Linked DNA regions of Homo sapiens. Changing the gene in region 1 together with any one later gene gives a genetic interaction. Each region holds a gene or a part of one and is shown in the gene's direction. Other genes may lie near its edges.

Region 1 (5,061 bases):
GCTGAGGTCAGGCTCTGTATACTGATGTGGGATAATGCCAAGATATGTTGTTAAGTGGAAAAACAACCTGTGGGAAAGTGTATATCGAATATTAGCATTCAGCCTTTAAAACGTGGGAGGGAGACTGAGCGCGATGGCTCACGCCTGTAATCCCAGCACTTTGGGAGGCCAAGGTGGGCAGATCACCCGAGGTCAGGAGTTCGAGACCAGCCTGACCAACATGGTGAAACCCTGTCTCTACTAAAAAATACAAAAGTTAGCTGGGCATGGTGGTGGATGCCTGTAATCTCAGCTACTCAGGAGGCTGAGGCAGGAGAATTGCTTGAACCCGGGAGGCGGAGGTTGCAGTGAGCTGAGATCATGCCACTGCACTCCAGCCTGTGTGACAGAATGAGACTGTGTCTCAAAAAAAAAAAAAAAAAAAAAAAAAAAGGTGGGAGCGAGCTGCATGCTGCCATATGCTTGTCCACGCCTAGAATTGCTCTAAGGAGAGCCTCATGATTGAGCTCAGTGGAAGGTAGACTTTGTACTGTTTGCCATTTCTAGTTCCCATATGCATTAAGTATATACTCAAATGACTAATTACTAAATATAGACATGGTCTCTGCCTGTGGGAAGTAGACAAACCTGAACCTGGGGGTCACTTCTGCTGCTGACTGCTAGGGGACCCTGGGCGAGTGACATCACCTGTTTGAGCCCCATTTGGGCTTCAGGAAGTAGGGCAGTGTATGCCCAGCGTTTAGCACACAGTAGGGGACTTGCAAGAAGCACCTGTTTTTAGGATCTCTTTCTCCTTCTGCTTCCTTTTCTGTTTCTCATTCCCTTGTACCCTTGGGGACAGTCCTGGACTAATACGGCTGAAAATTAGGACATGGGGGGCAGGGTTGGAAGGAGAAGAAATGTCCCCTGCTGACTCTTACCTGTCCCCTGTCCTTAGGGACCTCAAACTGGACAATGTGCTGCTGGACCGGGATGGCCACATCAAGATTGCCGACTTTGGGATGTGCAAAGAGAACATATTCGGGGAGAGCCGGGCCAGCACCTTCTGCGGCACCCCTGACTATATCGCCCCTGAGGTGAGCCGATACCCTTCCAGCCCCCCGCTCAGTCAGGCACCTTGCCTCCCCACGGTGGGCCAGGGAAGGATTCCCAAGGGCAGTGATGTCCAAGCCAAAGCCCATAGGCTGAGGCGGCCTGGCTAGGCTTCGTGCCCAGGGGCCCCTCTCAGCCTCAGCACCTCAGCTCCTGCTGACCTGCTGCTCTCCCCACCGCCAGATCCTACAGGGCCTGAAGTACACATTCTCTGTGGACTGGTGGTCTTTCGGGGTCCTTCTGTACGAGATGCTCATTGGCCAGTCCCCCTTCCATGGTGATGATGAGGATGAACTCTTCGAGTCCATCCGTGTGGACACGCCACATTATCCCCGCTGGATCACCAAGGAGTCCAAGGACATCCTGGAGAAGGTGGAGGCCCTGGGCTGGGCTGGGCTGGTCTGGGCTGGGCTGGGGCAGGGGCTGGCAGACACTGGGCTTTGGGTGAGGAGCTTCCTGTCTCTGGAATGGCAGCCTCAGTGGTGCTGCAGTCCTAACATACGGGGTATTGCTCTCTCACCATGTTCCCAGGAACTCCTGTCTGAGTCCTGTGCATAGAATCAGCCTGACATGGTGACTAAGGGCCCAGGGTCAGGAGACAGACCCGAGGCCAAATGCTGGCTCTGCCTGGGACTAGCTGGTCACTTAACCTCTCAGAGTTTGTCTCCTTATCTGTAAAATGGGGCTATGAGCAGACTTGACTCACAGAGTTGTTGGGAAGAAAATAGAAACATATGATGCTCAGCTGTGGGCCAGGCAGATAGTAAATAATAAAAAGTTCCACCAGCAGAGTCGCAGATGTCCAGCCCAGAGCCTGTCATCTCCGGGGGAGCTGGGAGCACTGCAGGCCAGAGTGGCCTCCCTCAGCCCCACCGTTCCCCAGGCTGACTGGGGCTGGGGCAAGCCTGGCTTTGCATCCCTGGGCCTGCTGGGGATTTGCTGAAGCTCCAATTTCCCATGGCCCTTGGGTGCTAACCAGGGTCCCTGCTGGGTTGCAGCTCTTTGAAAGGGAACCAACCAAGAGGCTGGGAGTGACCGGAAACATCAAAATCCACCCCTTCTTCAAGACCATAAACTGGACTCTGCTGGAAAAGCGGAGGTTGGAGCCACCTTTCAGGCCCAAAGTGGTATGTGATCCTGCCCTGTGCTGCCTTCAGGCTGAGCTACTCCTCTCCTGCCCTCCCTCTCTCCTGCATCATTCACACGCTTTCCACCTCTCCCTTCTTCCAGCAATCTCCATAGCATGTTCAGTCACAGCCGCTGCCCTTGTATTCTCATCCTCTCCCTCCTGACTCAGTCATTCAGCACACACTGGGGACTGTGGATCCCACTGTATGCAGAGGACCCTGTTTTGGGAAATAGAGTTAAGACCTCACTTTATCGCTCCATTCAATCCATTTTCCAATACATATGGGGAATCCTGAGTCCCTGTTGAATGCAGAGCACAGTGCTGGGCTGCACAGCAAAGTGGGAGATGCAGTCCCAGAACCGGAGGAGCTCTCAGCTAGTTGGAGAGATAAGAAACTTGCACACCTATGACAATTTGTGATACGAGATGACAGTATAAGAGATGCCCCAGGACACATGATCCGTTGCTATTGAGTGGGTCTGTCAGCAGGAACCCAGGTGGCAGAGAAGAGGGTGGGTCTGAGAGGCCCCGTTGGAAGAAGTGAGACAAGGGACAGCTGGGAGGCATTCCAGGTGGAAGAGGGGCTGGTTCACTCACAGGCCCAGAATCTACAGGGCTACCAAGGAACCAGCCTGAGAGCAGAGGCAGGTGGGGCCACTAAGAAATTTGGGGCTGTGTGGCCCCTCTGTGACCACAGTTCTTCCTTCCCACTCCCCTTCTGTCCTTTGATTCCCCTCCTCCACCAGGGCACACAGTTCCCACTGGGCAGCCTGTGTAATGCGCCCCACATTTGTGCTTTGAGGCTACAGAGCACTTCCCCTACACCAGGGACCTCAAACTCAGACGTGTCCTGGCTGAGCATGTAACTGACAGGCTAGGCCAGCTGCAAGAAAATCACACAGCCTGCTTTCAGTCTCACTTTTGATAGATTTCCTTCTCCGCACTAAGAAACACAAAGCAGGTGTGATGTACCCCTTGTCAGTGGGGCAGGGGCTGTCCAGGGGGCTCTTAGCACCAAGAGTGGGCAGGAAGTGGGCCCAGGGCTGCTTTAATCTGCCAGTTTTCAAAAGAAGCTGGAAATCTGGATTTTTAGGTTGCATTGCTCAATTTTAAAATATAAGTTCAGGCCGGGCACAGTGGCCCACACCAGCACTTTGGGAGGCTGAGGCAGGCAGATCACCTGAGGTCAGGAGTTCGAGACCAGCCTGGCCAACATGGTGAAACCCCGTCTCTACTACAAAAAATACAAAAAAAATTAGCCGGGTACGGTGGTGCACACCTGTAATCCCAGCTACTCAGGAGGCTGAGGCAGGAGAATCGCTTGAACCCAGGAGGTGGAGGTTGCAGTGAGCCGAGATCGTGCCACTGCACTCCAGCCTGGGCAAGAGAGTGAGACTCCATCTCTAAATGAATAAATAAATAAAAATAAATAAATAAAATATAGGTTCAAATTCCATTAAAACCCAGTACAAGCCGAAATGATTGTACTTGCCAGTTCAGTTTGGCTGAAGGGCCACCAGCTTGCGGTCTTTCTATATTACCATCCCATCATATCCTCAGGAGCAGAGAATCAGCAAATTTCTCCTGTAAACAGCCTGATAGTATATATTTTAGGCTTTTCAGGCTTGATGGTCTCAAAGCAGGCATAGACAGTATGTCAACAAATGGGCATGGTTGTGTATTACAAAAGCTTTATTTATGGAAAGTGAAATTTGAATTTCACCTAATTTTCATGTCATGAAATATTTTTCTTTTGATTTTTTTTCCAACCATTTAAAAATGTGAAAGCCATTCTTAGCTTGTGGTCCCCACAAAAACAGGTGGTAAGTGAGCCTCCCTGGGCTGTGATTCGGTGGTCTCTGAGCAAGAGGCTACCACCTCTCCTAACCCAGGCCCAGAGCTCCCTGGTCACTTTCCTCATCCTCTTGGGGAAATGGCAGCCTCCTTCCCATGGGGCTCCTTTCAGGCTGCTAGGGGAGGCTCTGTCTTCTGTTCTGGGTGAGGACAGCTCTGGCCTGGCCCAGCCCTGCAGGGACTCCAGCCTGGGGTGTCTGGAGGGCCATTCCCTAGGTCCTGTTCGCTCACCCCTGCCCTCTGCTTGTAGAAGTCACCCAGAGACTACAGTAACTTTGACCAGGAGTTCCTGAACGAGAAGGCGCGCCTCTCCTACAGCGACAAGAACCTCATCGACTCCATGGACCAGTCTGCATTCGCTGGCTTCTCCTTTGTGAACCCCAAATTCGAGCACCTCCTGGAAGATTGAGGTTCCTGGACAGATCAGGCTAGCCCTGCCCTCCACCCACACCTGCCCGCTCCCCACGATAAGCACCAGTGGGACTGTGGTGACTTCTGCTGCTGGCCCCGCCCCTGCCCCCAGAGCGTCCTTGGCTGCCGTCTGGCCGGGCTCTCATGGTACTTCCTCTGTGAACTGTGTGTGAATCTGCTTTTCCTCTGCCTTCGGAGGGAAATTGTAAATCCTGTGTTTCATTACTTGAATGTAGTTATCTATTGAAAATATATATTATATACATAGACATATATATATATATAATAGGCTGTATATATTGCTCAGTAGAGAAAAACCATGGGGGACTGGTGATATGTTGATCTTTTTCAAAAAAATATATATATGACAAAAAAAAAAAAAAAGGAGCACAAGCTGTTTGAACCACCAGGTTTATTTGTGTGTCTAAATAAACACCAAATAGTACCAACCTGGTTGTCAGGACACGTTTGTCCCAGGAAGCTGGTGGTGGCCACTCCCACTTTTGGCAGCACTGGCCCGGAAGCCAACTGCTGGGCCTTCATGCAAATGTGTTTGTATTTATGGGTTTCCTCTG
Region 2 (4,304 bases), on another chromosome or scaffold:
GCCCCAGGACAGGGACACGCCCGTGCAGAATAAGCGGAGGCGGAGCGTGACCCCTCCTGAGGAGCAGCAGGAGGCTGAGGAACCTGTGAGTGCCTTCCTCCTGGGGTTCACTTTGGCATGCACCTGGGCAGCCACCCCCTTGGCTAAGTTTGTGGCAGAGGGCAGGTGGCAGCCTGGGCATGGCAGAGAAAGGGGGTACCAGCCAGCCAGAGCACTGGGGGGCAGCCCCACCCTGACCCTGGCCTCCATCTGACTCACTTTCCAGAAAGCCCGCGTCCTCCGCTCAAAATCACTGTGTCACGATGAGATCGAGAACCTCCTGGACAGTGACCACCGAGAGCTGATTGGAGATTACTCTAAGGTACCTGCAGCAGCGAAGGGGGTACCTTGGGGGCTTGACCTCTTACTGACTAGGGGTCCTCTAGCCCAGGGGCTGCTTGGGTTCCTCCCTTTCTCCCCGGAGCCCCCCTTTTCTTTGTCCTTTGTATCTTTTCATCCTTTGTTCTCACATAGACTCCTCCCTCTGGCCCTCCTTGTCTCCTGACTCCACCTCAAGTCAGTCCAGGCATCTGTTGAGTCTCCGTCTTATTTCCAAGCTCATACCTAGCTTGGAACCCCCTCATGCCTCACCTTCGGGCTTGGCAGAGGGTAGGGAGCAGAGTGTGGAGTTCATCTCTTCCACTTCCCTTTTTCATTTCTCTTTCCCCTTGGAAGGTTGTTCCCTGGGTGTCAGACCCAAGAGGTGCCTCTCAGTTGCCATGGGAACCAGAACTGAATTTGAAGGCCAAAGCAGGTGTGGCCTCTGATTTTGGGAATGAAACTTCATTCTTTGAGGCTCCTGGTCTTACCAATTTAACTTTCTCCCCTCTCCCTCATCCCTTCCGTTCCCTTCAGGCCTTCCTCCTACAGACAGTAGACGGAAAGCACCAAGACCTCAAGTACATCTCACCAGAAACGGTAAACAGCGTTGCGTCATTTTCTAGGCAGATTTGGGACTGTAGCTCCATTGTTGACCTTCCCTGGGGACAGGCTAGGGCCACCTGCCAGCTGCCAGCCTGACCTGCCGGAACCAACCCCCATGACCTCCTACAGATGGTGGCCCTATTGACGGGCAAGTTCAGCAACATCGTGGATAAGTTTGTGATTGTAGACTGCAGATACCCCTATGAATATGAAGGCGGGCACATCAAGGTAAGATGGGGCAATGGGGAGAGGCCCTGAAGATCCCACCTGGTTTAGGTCCTTGCTTTGCCAAGAGGGTGAATGGGTGGAGGACGGGTGCCCCCTCTCATGGGGAGGGTTCCTACTAAGAGAAGGACAGCGACTGCACGGGGAGGGCCCTGACTCCTGGACCCGGGGCTGTGCCTGACCTCTGGCTCCTCTGACAGACTGCGGTGAACTTGCCCCTGGAACGCGACGCCGAGAGCTTCCTACTGAAGAGCCCCATCGCGCCCTGTAGCCTGGACAAGAGAGTCATCCTCATTTTCCACTGTGAATTCTCATCTGAGCGTGGGCCCCGCATGTGAGTCCCAGCTCCGCCCAGCCAGCTAGTGTCTGCCCTGGCCTTCCCTGCCCAGGCTCACAGGTGCTGGCACCATTGAGATGGCCAGGGGTGCAAGTCCAGGTCCTCCTCTGTCCCATCTGATGGCCTAGAGCTGACCTCAGCCCCACTTCACTGTGCATGGTACCCGCCTCCCATCTCCCTCACTGTCCTGCCTATCAAGCCTCATGTCCACCCCACATCCATTACTGCCACCCTCAGAAAATTTAGTTCCAAGTCTCTAGCGGTGTCTTTTCTCGAAATCTAAGGGCCGCGTGTCAGTCCCCAGTACACGGACCCTCCCCATGTTCAGTGCTGTTAGGTCTCCATTAGAACCTCTTCCATTGGCATCCACAGCACCTGGGCCTCCCTGGCTGAGCTCCTTCTGTCGCTATTCCTGTTCTGCCTGGCCATCTGTCCTCCCACCCCTGCCTCCTCCTGGGTTGCCACTGGTCCATATGACTGCTAGTGGCTCCCCAGCCTGGCCTCACCCATGTGGTGGGAATCTGCACCCAGACGCCCCTTACAGAGTCGCATCCCTGCGGCCCTCCCAACTTCTCCAGGCATCCCAGCATATGGCACCCACCTCCACCTGGGCACCGGGCCTGGGCACTGGCTTCAGTCTTGGGTCCTCCTCCTCCCTTCTCCCCACCACTGATCCTCACCAGGTCTTGTCCAGGAGTGGCCCGAATGGATCCCTTGAATTTGGCCCACTTGTCTCCTCTCCTGCTTCTCCTTTCCTGGTCCAGGCACAGATATCTCTAACAAAGATTGTGCAACTGCCTTCTAGAAACGGAGAGTTCATCCCCTTGATTTTACCTCCTTCCTTCCGCCTCCCCACCCTCTTCTGTAGCCAGAGTGACCTAAAAGTGTTCTTGTGGTTACATTCCTGTGCTCTAAAGCTTTCTGTGGCTCCCCAAGGCCCTCAAAGGAGGGGACGTGGGGGATAGGTCCCATGATGTACAAGCCACTGCATGCCCCACTCTGACCACACCCTGCCCATGACGCCCCAGGTGCCGTTTCATCAGGGAACGAGACCGTGCTGTCAACGACTACCCCAGCCTCTACTACCCTGAGATGTATATCCTGAAAGGCGGCTACAAGGAGTTCTTCCCTCAGCACCCGGTAGCGTGGGTGGGGAAGGCCACAGTCTCTGTGTGAGGGTTGGCTTGGCCAGGCTGGAGCCATGGGATGGGGGGTGGGAGGGTTGGGTCCCTGCCAAACTTACCCATTCCACTGCATTGACCCCTCCTGTCCTGCCCTAGAACTTCTGTGAACCCCAGGACTACCGGCCCATGAACCACGAGGCCTTCAAGGATGAGCTAAAGACCTTCCGCCTCAAGACTCGCAGCTGGGCTGGGGAGCGGAGCCGGCGGGAGCTCTGTAGCCGGCTGCAGGACCAGTGAGGGGCCTGCGCCAGTCCTGCTACCTCCCTTGCCTTTCGAGGCCTGAAGCCAGCTGCCCTATGGGCCTGCCGGGCTGAGGGCCTGCTGGAGGCCTCAGGTGCTGTCCATGGGAAAGATGGTGTGGGTGTCCTGCCTGTCTGCCCCAGCCCAGATTCCCCTGTGTCATCCCATCATTTTCCATATCCTGGTGCCCCCCACCCCTGGAAGAGCCCAGTCTGTTGAGTTAGTTAAGTTGGGTTAATACCAGCTTAAAGGCAGTATTTTGTGTCCTCCAGGAGCTTCTTGTTTCCTTGTTAGGGTTAACCCTTCATCTTCCTGTGTCCTGAAACGCTCCTTTGTGTGTGTGTCAGCTGAGGCTGGGGGAGAGCCGTGGTCCCTGAGGATGGGTCAGAGCTAAACTCCTTCCTGGCCTGAGAGTCAGCTCTCTGCCCTGTGTACTTCCCGGGCCAGGGCTGCCCCTAATCTCTGTAGGAACCGTGGTATGTCTGCCATGTTGCCCCTTTCTCTTTTCCCCTTTCCTGTCCCACCATACGAGCACCTCCAGCCTGAACAGAAGCTCTTACTCTTTCCTATTTCAGTGTTACCTGTGTGCTTGGTCTGTTTGACTTTACGCCCATCTCAGGACACTTCCGTAGACTGTTTAGGTTCCCCTGTCAAATATCAGTTACCCACTCGGTCCCAGTTTTGTTGCCCCAGAAAGGGATGTTATTATCCTTGGGGGCTCCCAGGGCAAGGGTTAAGGCCTGAATCATGAGCCTGCTGGAAGCCCAGCCCCTACTGCTGTGAACCCTGGGGCCTGACTGCTCAGAACTTGCTGCTGTCTTGTTGCGGATGGATGGAAGGTTGGATGGATGGGTGGATGGCCGTGGATGGCCGTGGATGCGCAGTGCCTTGCATACCCAAACCAGGTGGGAGCGTTTTGTTGAGCATGACAGCCTGCAGCAGGAATATATGTGTGCCTATTTGTGTGGACAAAAATATTTACACTTAGGGTTTGGAGCTATTCAAGAGGAAATGTCACAGAAGCAGCTAAACCAAGGACTGAGCACCCTCTGGATTCTGAATCTCAAGATGGGGGCAGGGCTGTGCTTGAAGGCCCTGCTGAGTCATCTGTTAGGGCCTTGGTTCAATAAAGCACTGAGCAAGTTGAGAAACCAGCATTGTGTCCTGTGGGGCCCTGGGCAAGACCCCAGAAGCCCGCCAATGGCGGGATTGGGGTAGGAGACAGGGTCAGCAAAGGCAGGAAGAGTTGCTGGAGAGGTGCCCTCATGCTCTTGTCCCTTCTTCTCCCAATGTCTTCCATCTCTTGGGTGACACTCCTGCCAGGACTTTGGATTCAACCCCTCCTTCCCCTCACC
Region 3 (4,885 bases), on another chromosome or scaffold:
CTTGGGAGGCTGAGGCAGGAGAATCACTTGAACCTGGGAGTCAGAGGTTGCAGTGATCCAAAATCGCGCCACTGCATTCCAGCCTGGGTGACAAAGTGAGACTCTGTCTCAAAAAAAAAAAAAGAAAGAAAGAAAAAAAAGAACTAAAAGAACTGACTGGACATGGGAATGTGGAGAAAGGGTTGTAAGGAATGACTCCTGAGTCCCTGAGCTGCATGACTAGGGAGAGGAGGGGATGGTGGTTAATTCACCATGACAAGGTACGTGGGGATTAGAGACAGATTTGGTGAAGTGGGGGAAGATTCATCCAGTTGATCATTCATTCAACAAACACGCATGGAGGCCTTACTGTGTGGCAAGCAGTGTTATAGACACTGGAGATAAAGTTTTGAACAAAACAGATAAAAACTGTTGCTCTTATGGAACTTTCAGTCTAGTGGGGATTGAGACAGCCAATATCAGATGGTGAAAAGGGATTTGGGGGAGAGAGAGATAGGGAGTGGGAGGGAAGGGGCTTGCAAATTTTGAAAAGGGTGCTCAGAGAAGGCCTCAATGAGAAAGTGACATTTGAGCAAAGACCTGAAGAAGGGGAGGGACCAGCCCATGTAGCTATTTGCGGGGGAAAGAGTCCAGGCAAATGAAACAGCAAGTGCAAAGGCCCTGAGGCAAGAGACAGCATAACAAGTTCAAGAAGCAAAGAACACAGAGTAGCTGGAGCAAGGCAGCAAGGGGGAGAATAACAGGAGAGGGATCCAGGAGGTAACAGGGATACCAGGTTTTGTAGGGCCTTGTAGACCATCCAAAGGGCTTTGACTTTGACTCTGAATGAGACAGGAGCCATTGGAAAGGTTGGGACGAGGATGGGCTGATCAGACTTCTGTTTGATTGATATCGCACTGGCTGCTGAAGGAATTACAGACAGGTGCGGGAACAAGGATGAAATAGAAGCAGGAGAGCAGGCAGGGGGCTATTGCGATTATCTAGGCAATAGATGAGGGTAGCTTGGAGCTGGCTAGTATTGGTTTCAGTTATATTTATATTTTCCAAATATTATCATAAAAATATTCAAACGTAGAGCCAAGTTGAACTTTACAGTGAATACCCAGGATTCTGGTTATATTTGGAAAGAAGAGAGTCCATGGGACTCACTGAGCGAGCAGAGCCTGTGGGATATCTTGGGAGGGTTGCAGCAGGCAGTCAGGTCATTTGACTTGGAACTAGAACTACAGCCCTGGTCTGCAGCATCACACCAGACCCAGATGCCTCAAAAGGATTATATGTTAAGGACAGTCTGCTGGTCTGTTGGCACCTAACCTTTTTTGGGTTATGAATCCAATAAACTATGAGCAGTTTGAACCTTTCTCAGAAAATGCAAAGAAAATTATTTGTAGTTTTAGAAGAATCATGAATACAGACAATAAAAGACATAAAATGTAGTCTATTTCACTCAATTACAAAATATTCAGTGTTGCAGAACCATTGTGGGTAAACATTCCTAATTTTTAGTGAACATATAAAGACCCCGTGCCTCACCAAGACGTCCTCCTGTCTTGCCCCCAGAATTCCTGTTTCTCCATCTGCCTGGTCTATGGGCAATGCACAGAATACGTAATGAAGAGGGGAGCAGTGAGTATTGGGTTACACAATTCCCTGGAACCTGGAACACACCCTTCTGAGTACTGTGAAGATGTGGTCCCCAAGGCTAGAGCTGAAAAGAGGCTTAGGGCCGGGTGAGCCTTCCAGCCAGGGCCTGCCTCCAAGTGATGCTCCCCCAGGGCAGGGGGCATAAGGATGGCACCCAGCCAGGTGGGAGCCTGGGCCCTGCCCAGCCTCAAAGCTTTGAGCTCAGGAAATCCGGAGGCAGGGGAGGGGGACATCGTTGCCACATTCCCCAGCCCTTTAAGACCCCCAAGGCAGGAAGGCTGCCCGGGCCTCACCAGCTTCCCTCACAGGCTCCTTCCTGGGAGGAAGGGGCTGCCTGTGCCCTCGAAGGCGCAAGGGAGGGCAGGAGGGAGGCTCGGAAGGTGTTGCAATCCCCAGCCCCCGGGCCTGTCAGAGGCTGAGCCATTAACGACAGAGCTCGGGGAGAGAAGCTGGACTGCAGCTGGTTTCAGGAACTTCTCTTGACGAGAAGAGAGACCAAGGAGGCCAAGCAGGGGCTGGGCCAGAGGTGCCAACGTGAGTAGGGGATCCCTAGAGAGGGGCTGAGCCTTGGGCTTGATGGAGAGCTGGAATCCTGGGGCCACTCCCCACAGCTCTGCCAAGTGTTCATGTCCGGGGTCCTAGGCCTGGGGCCCGGGATTCGTCCTTTGGAACCCCAGCCCTGGACACTGAGTCTCTTTTCACAGGATGCCCCTACTTTTGGGGGTATTGCACCAGGGAAGTCACTCACAGCCAAGTATCTCCTTGGGGACACTGAGCTGGGCTGGGGACAGGCATAATCATTCTCCCCTCCCCATGCCTCTGTCTCTCAGGACGTGTGTGTCTGTGAGTTCCAGCCGCGCAACCCCTCCCCGTCTGGGTCTCTATTTCACTCTCTGTTTCCATCTTTCCTCCTCAGCTTCTCTCTGGCTTGCTATCTCTCTGAGTTTCTCTGTCTCGCATATTTCCTGCTATCTCTTGAATCTTAAACTCTCGGTAACAGACGCTTCCCGGGCTCCAGGCCTCCGAGTGCCCCCCCCCCGCCCACTCTCTGGGTCGGCGTACATTGGGCCCTTTTTCTCTGTCTCTCGATATCTCTCTGGCCTCAATCGTCCTCTTGGCGAGTCTCTCTGTCGTTTCAGTCTGTGTGGATTTCAGTCACCGCCTCACTCTGTCACTCTTCCTGTTGCTCTCTCTTTTTCTTTATCTGCAGCATATCTGGAAATGCCTCTCCCCTCTGTTTATTCCCAGCCCCCTCCTCCCTCCCCACCCTTCCCACAGAAAGAATCTCGAGGTGAGAGTAGAAACAGCAAGGGAGCGAGGGGTGTGAAGTGGGGAAGAGAGTGTGAGGGGAGAGGGCTGAGCGTGATGAGGGAGAAACAGAAAGAGGGAATGTGAAGGCAGCCAGCCCAGGAGACATCGAGCTGTGCTGGGCCACAGGAGTGAGCACCTGCAGAGCCCAGCAGAGATGGCCGCAGTGACAGGAGGGCCAGGGGGCCCAGGAGTTAGGAGGAGAGGATCCAGAAAGGGGGCTTTGGAACTGCGCAGTGTGGCACAGACAAAAGCAAGGTGGCAGTCCTGGGAGGTGTGACCACACAGGCTGTGAGGGAGGCAGGGGTGAGGGGAAAACTGAACTGTGCTGGATTCTGTGAGCTGCTGACCTGCTATTTATGGCTCGTGAAAATAACCTATGGTTGCTGAGTGCCAACTCCATGCAAGGCACAGGGCTAAATGCCTTTACCAAAATAATCTCATTTCATCCTCACAACAACGCTGAGGAGTGAGTGCTAATGTTATTTCTTTCCCACAGATGGGGAAACTGAGGCTCGGCTCGGAAAGGTGAAGTAACTTGTCCAAGATCACAAAGCTGGTAAGTGGCGGAGCTGGAGATCAAGTCAGGTGACCTGAATCTGAGCTGGGCTCCAAACCTCTCTGCATATCGGCCCCCCAGAGAGTGAGACCATGCTCCAACAGGTCCTAGGCCCACTTAACCAGGCTGGGGGACGTCCAGGGCTGCAGTGGAGGACCAGAGACTGAGGCCAAGCAGGCCAACACCCAGCACCCAGGGGAAGGATGCCGGGGCCTCTTGGGGTTAGGTTGTCTACTCTGGACAGGAGCCAGTGGAGGCGGATAGGGTGGTACTGCACGGGGCATAGGCTGGGCCTGAAGCTGACCCTGGCTAGGGCAACAGGGCTGGGATAGGATCAAAAGCACATGGAGATGAAAACCAGTGTCCCAAAATCTGGGCCTTGGAGGCTAAATCTTCCCCAACCAGTGTTGCGGGGGGATAATCAAACTGGTATGCTATAGTAAGAAGGTTACCAACCACCGATGGGTAGACAGATGCTCGGGATACTTGTACAGGTTTCTCACTGCACAAAACTGAGGAGTAACTGGAGCCGAAATCCAGGCTGTTCCCTAGTTGCCAGGTCCTAGTGTGGTGCTGCATCCATCCAGAGGAAGGGGTGCTTTCTTTCTGATTTGCACAAAGGAGACTTACGGGCTAGCAGTCACTGGGTATTCCGATACTGCAATATATACATGGATAGACTGGGGGTTTGGGTAAGACCCCTGTGAGCAGTAACAACCTTGGGTATCTGGGCAGTTCTTATCCACACCTCTGTCTGGGAGGAAGAGAAAAGGATTCTCCTACCTTTCTCCCTGCTGAGCACGAGGGATCTGCTGGGACACCACCTGCGTGTATGTGTCCAGATATGTACGTGCAAGCTGACCAGCGATTCCCACTGATCTGCCACCAAGAGCACCAACTCGTGCTGGAGGATCAGGTGTTGGCTCCAAGACCCCAATGGGAGCAGGGTGAAGATGAGGCTGGACACCCACCCAAGTGGTAGAAACCTCTGCATACTTCCTAAGACTGGAGCCAAGGCACCCTCCATCCAGGTGCTATGGCCGTGACCTCATGATGCCTGACCCCAGAAGGCCACCAGAGGTCTGTGCCCAAAATTGGGGGCACACTGGACCCTTCGGGTGCCCCACTTGATATTCTCTCAGCCCACATGGCTGAGGCAGCCAGCTTCCTGCAGGCATAACCTGACAGCCCCTTGCCTCAGCTGCTCCATAGAGTTCTCCCTTTCTTCCAGGGAGTGTCCCTGACAACACTGGCATGGCTTCCCCAGGAGAACCTGCCTAGTACTCATGCATGCCCAACCTGGATGTGCCAGGGAATGAACACCCCAAGAGGCATCCCTTGACCAATGGGGGGCAGGAGTCAGTGGGTAAATCT
Region 4 (4,304 bases), 5.0 Mb from region 1:
GTAATACCTTTTAGGGATGTTGTGGCAATAAGTAAGATTATGTATGAAGTATTGAAAATGGTGCCTGACAGGCGGGAGTTGCTCAGATTGTAGCTCACAGGAGTAATTACATGTACAAATAGTGTTTGTCTGGAAGGCTCTGCCCAGGCTGTCCTTGCCTCTTTGCTCTGACCCTGAAATGAATTGTAAGCTTAGGAAAAGGCTCTTTGGCAGTATTTGTAAGAACGGGGTCAACAAGTTCTAGGGAATCTCAGAGTAACTGAAATGGTGGCTTGGAAGGTGAATTTCTGGTTATCTACCCTGAATGAGCCTGGCTTTTTTGTTCTTTTAGACATTGCACAGAGTAGGCATCCAAAACAGTTGTAATTTTTTCAGCCTTCTCTCTACTGTATTTCTATATATTTACTTTCTCCCCTTTTCCATTCCTGCTGAAATGCCACAGTTCATAATCCTTGTCCTTACAATCTTCAGGTTTAGTGTGAAACCCACTGCCTCCATGAACTCTCCTGATGATTTCTTTATCAACCTGGGAAGTGTCATGAGAAAGAATATGGAAATGAGTTCCAGCCTTGAGTGCTTGGAACAGTGTATCAGCCTCTAGTGCTTTTTACCAGGGCAAAGCTGTACTGATGCCTGGTTTTCCCCCGAAATAGCTTCTCAGGGTTGCTTGCCTGGAGCTTTGTTTTAAAGGGAAAACAGCATAGATGGTGGTTAAAGAGCTCTCACTCTGGAGTTGTCCTGTTTTACTTCAATATTTTGGGCACATTCCTTAACCTGCAAGGTCTAGTTTTCTCACCTGTAAAATCGGGACAATCAGGTTGTATTTGATGGTTAAAAAGTTAATGCACAGAAAGTACTTAGTACTGTGTTGGCATAGAAATCACTGTAATATTAGCCATTACTGCTTTTTTTTTTTTTTTGATTCTTCATGGTTTTATTTCTCTCAGAACTTTAAAATGTGAACATTCTATAATTCAGCCAGTCTTTACTTCCAGGTAACTTCTTTATTGGGTCGCAATACCCTTTTAAATAACATGCTCTTGTTCCGGAAGGTAGTTAGCCGTTCATCACTCTTTCTGTCTAAATAACATCCAGTGACAAATCCCATAGGGACAAGAACATGAACCCAGTGGTCCCGCACAATCTGAAGTAAGTTCACCATGATAGCTGCAGCCTCAGTGCCGACCGCGACCCCGAGACCAAGGGCAACGGGGAACTCAGCCACCCACGCCAGTGCTAGCCATTACTGCTTTTAATACTTAATTATGAGTTCTTAAGTGAATATTTTAGGGCAAGGGACCTGTGAGTGTTTTCATTCCATAAAGTGGAATCATACGATATGTATTCTATCATATCTGGCTTTAAAAAACATTATGCTTGTAAGAATCGTCCACGTTGAGTAAACCAGTAGGGCTTTTTTTTTTTTCATTGCTTTTAGTATAGAATAGAATAATTATAAGTAGAAAAAATTATCTCCAGTTGGTAGGAAGAGGTGGAAAATATGAAGCCCTGAAACAGATGGACCTAGATGGAAAATTTTGACAACTATTCACAGGCAATTATATTAGATTTTATTTATTTTTGCTTTAGATTTCAGAAAGTTTGTGATTTAGCTTATTCATCGTGTTTTGTATATTTGGCAGATACTTGTGTTAGGAAATACAGTATGACAAGAAAAAGATGTTACTTTAGAAGTTAGCTGTTGACAGAGCCTTGGAAATTCTTAGTTACGCAGATCTATTGTTGGAATTAGGTGAAACTTTAATTTGGAGGCAGAAAGGTGATCAGTGCCCACTTTCTTGCCTCTTTCACCCAAGCTGAGGCCTGAGTTGGTTTTCATGGACAGTAGATGTCTCAACTATGTCTTGCAGGAAGCCTTTGAGTTTAAGAAGCCAGTAAGACCTGTATCTCGTGGCTGCCTGCACTCTCATGGACTCCAGGAGGGTAAAGATCTCTTCACACAGAGGCAGAACTCTGCCCCAGCTCGGATGGTATGTGCTCTGGCTTTCATAGGGGAATTCCTGACAGGAAGAAAGGATTAAAACACCTTCTTTCATCCAGAATTGAAGGCACTACAGTAGCACTAGCTGTTTTTACCTTGACTTTGTCTTTTGAAATTAGACTGTCAAGCATTCTTGGTGGTTTTGCTGTGTCTGGAGAACAGACAGGCGGTAGTAAGAGTGGGAGATGGTGTTTGAAATATTGGAGTTGTGCAAGGAATAATCGACCTTGTTAATCTGGGAAATCCTGGGTCATCCTAAATGTATGTATGGTGGGATTATATCTCTTCCTATTTTTTTCTTTTTTTCTTTTTTTTTTTTTAAGGGCTTTCTGGCAAAAACCGGAAAGCCTGCGAGACAAATTTTAAAAGAGCCGTAACACTAGATCTCTTACTTAAAACTTGGTCTTTACTATGCATTCTAAGTGCTTCTCAAGGAACTGGAGAGAGAGCACTTGACTTCTTCCAAAGGTGGTTTGTTAAGAACAGTTATGGGCCAGGTGCCATGGCTCATGCCTATAATCTCAGCACTTTGGAAAACTGAGACAGGAGGATCGCTTGAGTCCTGGGCAGCATAGTGAGACCACATCTCTATTTTTTTTATTTTTAATTTTTTTAAAGAACTATTATGGATTACAGTGAATGCTCAGGCTGCTGGGCAGTTTTGGGGTCACTCGTTTCAGGGCTATGTATTTGCCAGACAGGGACTGTCATTACTTCCAAAGTTTCCTGCTGTTGGTCTGAATTGGATTAACTGATAGCATCTATAGATTGGAGAGGCCCAACTTGAGCAAGATGACCACATTTGGCTTCCAGGTTTACCTAGGATCTTAAATCTGAAAATATACCTTTCCAATCTGCTTTGTGTTCTGAGGTTCAGCCAGTATTGTTACTCTGTCTATCATTTGCACAAAGCACTTTTATATGTTCTTGTCTTGTGAAGTGGAGTTAATCCACTTGAACAGATTAGGAAAGTACCACTAGAGAGGTTTGGATGATTTACCAAAGGATATACATAAGTAGGAAACCAGGATTTAATGATCTCTGGCTGGGTGTGGTGGCTCATGGCTGTAATCCCAGCACTTTGGGAGGCCGAGGTGGGAGGATCACATGAGGTCAGGAGTTCAAGACAGCCTGGGTAACATAGTGAGACCCTATCTGTACAAAGTTAAAAAATAAGCTGAGTGTGGTGGCTTGTTCCTATAGTCCCAATTAGTCGGGAGGCTGAAGTGGGAGGATTGCTTGAGCCCAAGAATTCGAGGCTGCAGTGAGCTATGATCAGACCACTGTACTCCAGCCTGGACAATGAATCCCTGTCTCAATAAACAATCTCTAAATTCCCAAGTACACAGTAATGCTTTAAGAGTTGGGTATCAGAAACAATATATTTGGTGTGTGCTTAGCGACTAGAGCCTGTATCACATCTGCACCTAGGAATCCCAGAACATACCTCACAAATGTTGGTGTGATATAGTGTGAGCTTTCGTGATAAAGGTACTGCCCCATAATAAAGTTATCTACCCCTAGGCTAAAAAAATTTGCCATTTCCCAGAGTGTGCACTTGGGGAGGACTAGAGACTGCTCAGAACTTGTTTTATATTGTGAAGCAAAGCTAATGCCAGAACCAGAATAGGCCAGCTGCAGAGAGGATTCCTTGGTGCATGATCCACTCAGAAAATCAGAGGGCCACTTAACTAACAACAGATTCATACCCCAAAGAGATTTGGATTTTAAGGATTACTTGTAGGTCATAACATTGGGACTACCCTGCTACTGTGAAAAAAATAACTCTAAACTTTTTTTTCTGGATTTGAAAGTGCCTAGAAAATAAATAATTCAGTATTAGCAGTGTTTGTATTGGTAGGATTTATCTTCAGGTGTGGATTTATGAGCAGTTTTTCTAAATTTTCTATATTCCATGTTTAGAGGTTTCCCAAAAAAAGTATGACTATAGGTTGGCTAATGAGGTACCGCCATTTTAATTCCAGGAATGGTTTTCTCCTAGGGAGATAGTGTGGTGAGAAGAGTTTGGATTTTGGAGTCAAACAGATGAGGTGTATAATCTTGGTAACCTCTTAAGCACCAGTTTCCTGATTTGCTAAAGAAAAAGGAAAGGATTAGCTACCTTTAGTGTATTGTGAGGCTTCTATTGGATTATATGTATAAAGATTATATCGTAGTATCTGGCACACAGTAATTCCTCGTTTAAAAACTGAGCATTTAAATCCCAAGTCTAAAGAACGAGGATAGATTTTATAGAAGGAAGTTACCCTTTATTCCCCCCTGTCAGAACTGGAGTTATATA

What was found.
Region 2: changes in PRKCD (region 1) and CDC25B together harm fitness more than expected from each alone (negative genetic interaction), as found in Homo sapiens cells (one large-scale study listed by BioGRID).
Region 3: changes in PRKCD (region 1) and CSF3R together harm fitness more than expected from each alone (negative genetic interaction), as found in Homo sapiens cells (one large-scale study listed by BioGRID).
Region 4: changes in PRKCD (region 1) and CDC25A together harm fitness more than expected from each alone (negative genetic interaction), as found in Homo sapiens cells (one large-scale study listed by BioGRID).

Annotation. Positions count from the first base shown.
Region 1 is NC_000003.12:53,187,783-53,192,843, forward strand, and holds the end of PRKCD (protein kinase C delta type), read left to right. Parts: intron 1-937; coding exon 938-1,076; intron 1,077-1,275; coding exon 1,276-1,464; intron 1,465-2,090; coding exon 2,091-2,219; intron 2,220-4,325; coding exon 4,326-4,484; 3' UTR 4,485-4,935; downstream 4,936-5,061.
Region 2 is NC_000020.11:3,802,016-3,806,319, forward strand, and holds the end of CDC25B (M-phase inducer phosphatase 2), read left to right. Parts: coding exon 1-85; intron 86-265; coding exon 266-361; intron 362-714; exon of another isoform or gene 715-793; intron 794-894; coding exon 895-957; intron 958-1,092; coding exon 1,093-1,191; intron 1,192-1,388; coding exon 1,389-1,522; intron 1,523-2,553; coding exon 2,554-2,665; intron 2,666-2,805; coding exon 2,806-2,946; 3' UTR 2,947-4,100; downstream 4,101-4,304. UniProt on the Homo sapiens protein: Tyrosine protein phosphatase which functions as a dosage-dependent inducer of mitotic progression. Directly dephosphorylates CDK1 and stimulates its kinase activity.
Region 3 is NC_000001.11:36,480,104-36,484,988, reverse strand, and holds the start of CSF3R (granulocyte colony-stimulating factor receptor isoform a precursor), read left to right. Parts: upstream 1-2,075; 5' UTR 2,076-2,178; intron 2,179-3,451; 5' UTR 3,452-3,511; intron 3,512-4,885. UniProt on the Homo sapiens protein: Receptor for granulocyte colony-stimulating factor (CSF3), essential for granulocytic maturation. Plays a crucial role in the proliferation, differentiation and survival of cells along the neutrophilic lineage.
Region 4 is NC_000003.12:48,178,408-48,182,711, reverse strand, and holds part of CDC25A (M-phase inducer phosphatase 1), read left to right. Parts: intron 1-915; exon of another isoform or gene 916-1,235; intron 1,236-1,871; coding exon 1,872-1,991; intron 1,992-4,304. UniProt on the Homo sapiens protein: Tyrosine protein phosphatase which functions as a dosage-dependent inducer of mitotic progression. Directly dephosphorylates CDK1 and stimulates its kinase activity. Also dephosphorylates CDK2 in complex with cyclin-E, in vitro.